2 linked regions of the Homo sapiens genome follow. The protein of the gene in region 1 interacts with the protein of each later gene in a biochemical or structural test. Each region holds a gene or a part of one and is shown in the gene's direction. Other genes may lie near its edges.

The links. The genes of interacting proteins can lie anywhere in the genome.
Region 2: the proteins of CYCS (region 1) and COX4I2 form a complex in vitro, tested with the Homo sapiens proteins (4 studies listed by BioGRID).

What each region holds. Positions count from the first base shown.
Region 1 is NC_000007.14:25,123,925-25,127,669, reverse strand, and holds the start of CYCS (cytochrome c), read left to right. Parts: upstream 1-2,409; 5' UTR 2,410-2,470; intron 2,471-3,542; 5' UTR 3,543-3,550; coding exon 3,551-3,719; intron 3,720-3,745. UniProt on the Homo sapiens protein: Electron carrier protein. The oxidized form of the cytochrome c heme group can accept an electron from the heme group of the cytochrome c1 subunit of cytochrome reductase.
Region 2 is NC_000020.11:31,635,692-31,639,436, forward strand, and holds the start of COX4I2 (cytochrome c oxidase subunit 4 isoform 2, mitochondrial), read left to right. Parts: upstream 1-2,220; 5' UTR 2,221-2,271; intron 2,272-3,326; coding exon 3,327-3,408; intron 3,409-3,417; exon of another isoform or gene 3,418-3,492; coding exon of another isoform or gene 3,493-3,589; intron 3,590-3,745. UniProt on the Homo sapiens protein: Component of the cytochrome c oxidase, the last enzyme in the mitochondrial electron transport chain which drives oxidative phosphorylation.

The sequences.
Region 1 (3,745 bases):
GAAAGAGATATGTGACTTTTCAAACAGAGAATTCAAAATAGCTGTGTTGAGGAAGCTCAACAAAATTCAAGATAACACAGAGAAGAAATTCAGAATTCTACAAGATAAATTTAACAGAGATTAAAACAATTAAAAAGAATCTAGCAGAAATTCTGAAGCTGAAAAATCCAATTAACGTACTAAAAAATGCAGTCCCTTACAGGCAGAATTGATCAAACAGAAGGAAGAATTAGTGAGCTTGAAGATGGGCTATTTGAAAATACACACTCAGAAGAGACAAAAGAAAAAAGAATAAAAATGAATGAGGTACACCTATAAGATCTAGAAACTGGCTTCAAAGGGCAAATCTAAGAGTTACTGGCCATAAAGAGGAGCTAGAGAGAGAGATCAGGGTAGAAAGTTTATTCAGCGAGATAATGACAGAGAACTTCCCAAACCTAGAGAAAGATATCAATATTCAAGTACAAGAAGGTTATAAAACACCAAGCAGATTTAACCCAACGAAGACACCCCAAAACATTTAATAATCAAACTCCCAAAGATCCAGGATAAAGAAAGAATCCTAAAAGCAAGCAAGAGAAAAGAAACAAATAACATAAAAAGGAGTTCTAATAAGTCTGGCAGCAAACTTATCAGTGGAACTTTACAGGCCGGGAGGGAGTGGCATTACATATTTAAAGTGCTGAGGGAAAAAACTTTTATCCTAGAATAGTACATCCAGTGAAAATATCCTTCAGATGTGAGGGAGAAATAAAGACTTTCCCAGGCAAACAGAAGCTGAGGGATTTCATCAACACCAGACCTGTCCTACAAGAAATGCTAAAGGGAGTTCCTCAGTCTGAAAGAAAAGGACATTCGTAAGCAATAAGAAACCACCTGAAGGTACAAAACTCACTACTAATAGTAAGTACACAGAAAAACACACAATATTATAATACTGTAATTGTGTGTAAACTGTTCATATCTTGAGTAGAAAGACTTAGAGATTAACCTAACTTATCAAAAATAATAGCTATAACAACTTTTCAAGACATAGTATAATAATATATAAATAGAAACAAGAAAAAGTTTTAAAAGTGGGGAGAGTGAAGTTAAAGTGCAGAGTTTTTCTTAGTTTTCTCTTTGATTTTTGTTTATGCAATCAATGTTATGTTGTCATCAGTTTAAAACAATGGGTTATAAAATATTATTTGCCCTGGGCGTGGTGGCTCACACCTGTAATCCCAGCACTTTGGGAGGCCGATGCGGGTGAATCACCTGAGGTCAGGAGTTCGAGACCAGCCTGACCAAATAGTGAAACCCCATCTCTACTAAAAATACAAAAATTAGCTGGGCGTGGTGGTTTGCTCCCGTAGTCCCAGCTACTTGGGGGGCTGAGACATTAAATGGCGCCACTGAAGAAGAATGAATAAGGTCTAGTAATACAACAGGGTGACTACACTCAACAATAATTTATTGTACATTAAACAAACTAAAAGTATAATTGGATTGCTTGTAACAGAAAAAAAGGATAAATGCTTGAGGTGATGGATAGACCGTTTACCCTGATGTGATTATTATACATTGTATGCCTGTATCAAAATATCTCATGTACCTCTTAAGTATATATATATATTTACCTACTTCGTACTCATAAAAATTTTAAAAGGTACATAAATGTTATCATTGCATCCTCTTAATTTTATTTTTCAGTTCCAGAGGGATAATCCTGTCTCTGCCGCAAATGCAGCACCTTCCTCAGTCTTGGGGCGTCCATCAAGCGGAGAGCTGGAATGTGACTGAAAGTAACAGAGTATAGGTGGAACTAGAACAAGGTCACGAGCTGGTGCCCAACTCGTGTAACTCCTGGTTCCAGGCTGTCCCTCTAGGATGCTGTTGGCGCCAGCCGTGGTAGTAGGACAGAGTCTGGGTAAAGGTCGCCTGCTGACAAGATGGTAGCTAGGAGACCTCTAGGTGCGCCAAAATTAGGGCGTCTTTTCCTGGACCGGCAAAACGCCCTGCTCAAAGCTCATTACATCACCACGCCCAAGAACTGATACTTTAGCAGGGCAACGCACCAACCAAGCGACTCCGCCCCACCCTCCCCGCTCCTCCAGCACACGCAAGCGCACAGAGGCCCGCGAGTGACGTCACCTCTCCCGACACCACCTCGTTGTCGTACGACCAAAGGCCTGTCGTAACGGCCGGGAAAAGCCTCGAGAAGAAGGGCACGCACGCCGTACACCCTAACATGCTCGCCAGCATGCGCGCGCAGGTCCTTGGCGCAGGCATTGGGACTGGAGCCAATGAGGTGCGGCGACGTTACTGCGTAGCCGCCAGCTCGGCCGCACGTCAGGGCGCGGGAGCGCGGAGCGAGTTTGGTTGCACTTACACCGGTACTTAAGCGCGGACCGGCGTGTCCTTGGACTTAGAGAGTGGGGACGTCCGGCTTCGGAGCGGGAGTGTTCGTTGTGCCAGCGACTAAAAAGAGGTGAGAGCGGGTCGCGGAGGCCGCACCTGGTTAGAGGCAGAGCTGTGGGAGGCGCGCACTTGCGAGCGACCGAAACCCAAGCGGGGAGCATTCGAGTGGAGCCCGCGCTGGGTGGGAGGGCGGGGAGTGAAGACCCTGGACTGTGGTCAGACCGAGCTGGGCGAGTAACGGCTTGAGGTGCGGCGGAGCCCTAACTAGGGACAGGTATGGTCTCGGTCAGGGACTGGAGGCGGCTTGGATACAGATCCGAGGAGGAGGCGGCCTCTTCCGTAGTGGTTGCTGAAGGGCTATGGAAATGATAGGCAAGACTTCCCTCCTGGAAAGCCGAAGCTTAGAGCTTCACGTTCTTCTTCAGAGGGCAAAAGCTGTTGCTCTTCTAATAAGGGGCCAGTTCTTTTCGTGGGCACATGTTTCTTCCGTCAGTCGTTCTGACATCCTAGAAGGAGTTTCATCAATCACCTTGAAACCGACCTGGACGGGTGACCTCGTGGTCGCCCCAGGAGATCACAGGTAGGGGAGTTGGGATGTCCCCGGGGGACCGTGCAGCCTGCCCCTGAGCTCCCATTCACAAGTTCGAGTGTCAAGCTACTCCTGTGACCTGGGCAGATAGAAACAGCCAGGACCGCTTTTTAAACATTTGTGTGCTTTGCGTTATCCTCAGGGAGAGGTGGCTTTACATTGTAGTAAGATTAAATGGTTAGGTCTTTTTAAAAGTTGCGGTTGTGGTGATTTTGGCTTAATGTGTTCGCCCTTGAGCTTCAGATCTGTGACTTCGTGACCATGATTGTCTCTTCTGAAACTGGAGTTTGAATTAGGTTCCCTCTTTGCTTGGGCTTTAACGTTCCTTCACGTATACACACAAAAATACGTTTTTGAGGAGGTACTCCTAAAAATGTTTTTGGTATTAAAGAATATTTGGTATAAAGAGTATTAAAGCAAAACAAGATTCATTCTGGTATTTAATGACATAAATTAGCAATGGATTGGTAATTAAGTGGCTAGAGTGGTCATTCATTTACACTGTATTTGTTACCTGAGGAAAAATTTACTAAGTTGAAGCTTTCGTTTTTAGAATTAAATATGGGTGATGTTGAGAAAGGCAAGAAGATTTTTATTATGAAGTGTTCCCAGTGCCACACCGTTGAAAAGGGAGGCAAGCACAAGACTGGGCCAAATCTCCATGGTCTCTTTGGGCGGAAGACAGGTCAGGCCCCTGGATACTCTTACACAGCCGCCAATAAGAACAAAGGTAAGAGTCACTTGTTAAATAAAACA
Region 2 (3,745 bases), on another chromosome or scaffold:
TGGTCTCAAACTCCCGACCTCAGGTGATCCATTCGCCTCGGCCTCCCAAAGTGCTGGGATTATAGGCATGAGCCACCGCACCTGGCTGTCTCTTCTGTTCAGTTGTTTTTTTTTTTTTTTTTGAGACGGAGTCTCGTTCTGTCGCCCAGGCTGGAGTGCAATGGTGCAATCTTGGCTCACTGCAACCTCCACCTCCCGGGTTCAAGCGATTCTCCTGCCTCAGCCTCCCAAGTAGCTGGGACTACAGGTGCATGCCACCACGCCTGGCTAATTTTTTGTATTTTTGGTAGAGATGGGGTTTCACCGTGTTAGCCAGGCTGGTCTCGATCTCCTGATCTTGTGATCCACCTGCCTTGACCTCCCAAAGTGCTGGGATTACAGCGTGAGCCACTGCACCTGGCCTGTCTCTTCTGTTTTTTGAACATGCTGTGTTTTCCTGCCTCTGGGTCTTTGCACAGGCCTTTTCCTCTGCCTAGAACAGAATTGTAAGCCCTGTGGGGGCAGGAACTATGTCTGGTTTTTTTTGGCTCTATAGCCCCCAACATTTATCCTGGTAAACAAGTATGCAATAAATGCCAGCTGAAACAGGTCTTTATAAGTTTTTTTTAAGTTTTTTTTTTTTTTTTTTTTTTTTTGAGGAGTCTCACTCTACCACCCAGGCTGGAGTGCAGTGGTGCGATCTTGGCTCACTGCAACGTCTGCCTCCCAGGTTCAAGCGATTATCTAGCCTCAGCCTCCCGAGTAGCTGGAATTATAGGTGTCCCCTGCCACACTCGGCTAATTTTTGTATTTTTAGTAGAGACGGGATTTCACCACGTTGGCCAGGGTGGTCTCAAACTCTTGACGTTAGGTGATCTGCTCGCCTCCGCCTCCCAGAGTGCTGGGATTGCAGGCATGAGCCACCACGCCCAGTTTTATAAGTAATTCTTGAATAAATGTGCCTGAGCCTTGTCTATTTTTTTTTTTTTTTTTTTTGAGATGGAGTCTCGCTCTGTCACTAGGCTCGAGTGCAGTGGCATGATCTTGGCTCACCGCAACCTCTGCCTTGCGGGTTCAAGCCATTCTCCTGCCTCAGCCTCCTGAGTAGCTGGGACCACAGGCGCCTGCCACCATGCCTGGCTAATTTTGTTTGCATTTTTAGTAGAGACGGGGTTTCGCTGTGTTAGCCAGGATGGTCTCCATCTCCTGACCTCATGATCTGCCCCCCTTGGCCTCCCAAAGTGCTGGGAATTTTTTTTTTCTTTTTCTTTTTCTTTTTTTCTGAGACAGAGTCTTGTTCTGTTGCCCAGGCTGGAGTGCAGTGGCCCGATCTCGGCTCACTGCAACAGCCGCTTCCCAGGTTCAAGTGATTCTCCTGCCTCAGCCCTCTGTGAAGCTGGGACTATAGGTGCGCGCCACCACGCCCTGCTAACTTTTTTTTTTTTTTTTTTTTTTTTTGAGATGGAGTCTAGCTCTGCTGCCCAGGCTAGAGTGCAGTAGCCGGATCTCGACTCACCGCAACCTCCGCCTCCCGGGTTCAAGCGATTCTCCTGCCTCAGCCTCCTGAGTAGCTGGGATTACAGGTGCGTGCCACCACGCCCAGCTAATTTTTGTATTCTTAGTAAAGATGGGGTTTCACCATGTTGGCTAAGCTGTCTCAAACTCCTGACCTCGTGATTTGCCTGCCTTGGCCTCCCAAAGCGCTGAGATTACAGGCATGAGCCACCGCGCCCGCCCAATTTTTCTATTTTTAATAGAGAAGGTGTTTCGCCATGCTGGGCAGGCTGGTCTCAAACTCCTGACCTCAGGTGATCCTCCCGCCTCGGCCTCCCAAAGTGCTAGGATTACAGGCGTGAGCCACTGCTGGCCTAAAAGATGCTTCTGGAGTAGGAGGCATTGGGCCTGGCTGGAAGGTTTGCGTCTGCAAAGGCCTGAAGAGAACATCCCAGGTGGGAGAAACAGCAAGGAGGGGAGGTGTGGAGGAGGCAGGGAGACCCTGTTCTTGGGACTACTGTCTGCAGAGGGTCTCCAGAGGCAGGACCCCGGTAGGGACACTGATGCAGGAGGCGCTCTGCAGTGCCTCCCCCCAATCTGTGGGCCGGGGTGCCCCCAGGGACGCAGGCTGTGCGCTCCCACGCCCTGCCGAAGCAGGACGTTCCCACGCTGGGGCGGCCCCGAGAAAGGCTGTGGGGCGGGCCGGGGGCGGGCGCCCGCACTCAGGTCCCTCCGCAGCGGGTTCTCAGTTGCTCGCTGGGCAGACCCAGGTCGCGCTCCCACTGCCGAGCCCGCGAGGTGAGTGAGTTGGGGGAGGACCCCGCCACCCAAGCCCGCGCGGGTCAGGGGCGCGGCTCGGTCTCCTGCCTTCGCCGCTGGGTCACGCCCCAGTGGTCCCTGTCTTAGAGGGTTGGGGGGCTTCTTGTAGGTTAGAGTTGAAGACTCCTGGGGAGTCTGCATATGTGTGCCATCTCTTTCCCCAAATATAGATTACATCCTCCCTCTCTTGATATGTGGAGCTCTCCCACCCACTAATCATAATCACTGGCCGGAGCCCCTCTTTTCCAGAAGTGTGGGCCGCCCCCTCCCACTTATCACCTGTAGTGTGCCCCCTCCCTCACTCTATTTGTTGGGTGCCCCTCTCTCTCCCTAGATGTGGGACTCCCCTTCTTTTCCCCAGATGTGTGTCTCCCTCCCTCTGACCCAGTTAAGTCCCCATCCTCTAAAGCCCCTCCCCACCACCATGGATGCCAAACCCTGAGTCTTCCCTGGGGGTGGGAGACTGGGCTCAGCCAGACTGGCTAAGCCCAGTCCCCACCCCAACCAGATCCAGCAGAGCAGGCCTGTGTGCACGTAGGCAGCCAATTAGGGGGGAAGGGGTGGGGGCCAGACCGTCTGTCTGTTCTGCCGGTGCAGGGGCCTCTGGCCCCTGCAGGGAAGAGAGACTCAAGAACTGCTCCCTCTCCACCTGGACCCCACCCAGCTTCCTCTGGGGAGCAAACAAGTGAGCGGGGTTCTCCAATCTGGCCAGACTGAGCTGGGGCTGGCACCAGAACCCAAGCCCTCAGCCTCAAACTCTTCAGACCCTGGCCCAAGACTTAGGCCTCCTCCCACTTCTCAGATGGTGAATTGAGGTCCCAAAAAGGGGCTTCAAAGGTCTAGGACCCCCATTGGCCCCCCGCTGGGGATATCAGACAAAATTAGAAGGGTCAAGGGCATGAGGGTGACCTTGAAACACTGGGACACCCCTACCACTACCATACCAGTGGAAAAGGATTTTTCCATCTGGCCCTGCGGTTTGGGGGCAGAGGGTGATGTGGGGGCAGAACTCATCTATACCTTCACGCCCCCAGATGCTCCCCAGAGCTGCCTGGAGCTTGGTGCTGAGGAAAGGTGGAGGTGGAAGACGAGGGATGCACAGCTCAGAAGGCACCAGTGAGACCTGGACTCCTTCCTCCCTGCCTAACTCCAGAGATAGGGGCAGGGGTCCCCTCTGCAGGCTGCCCCCTTTGCCCTTCCATGCCACCCTGGGCCTGTTCCTACCACACTTCCCATGTTCCCATGATCCCACTCCTTGGTCCAAGGTCAAGTTTCTCCAGGAAATGGAGTGCGCGGGGTGAGCAGACAGTGGTCATCTCCATTCCAAGCTTCCTTAGGAGCCAGCCCCCAAGCCTCAGGCCCCTAGACCTTTTGTTCTGAGGTGGAGGATGCTGACAGAACCTTGGACCCTGATTCCTCCTTTCCAGACCCTAGTTTCAATGCTAGTAAGAAG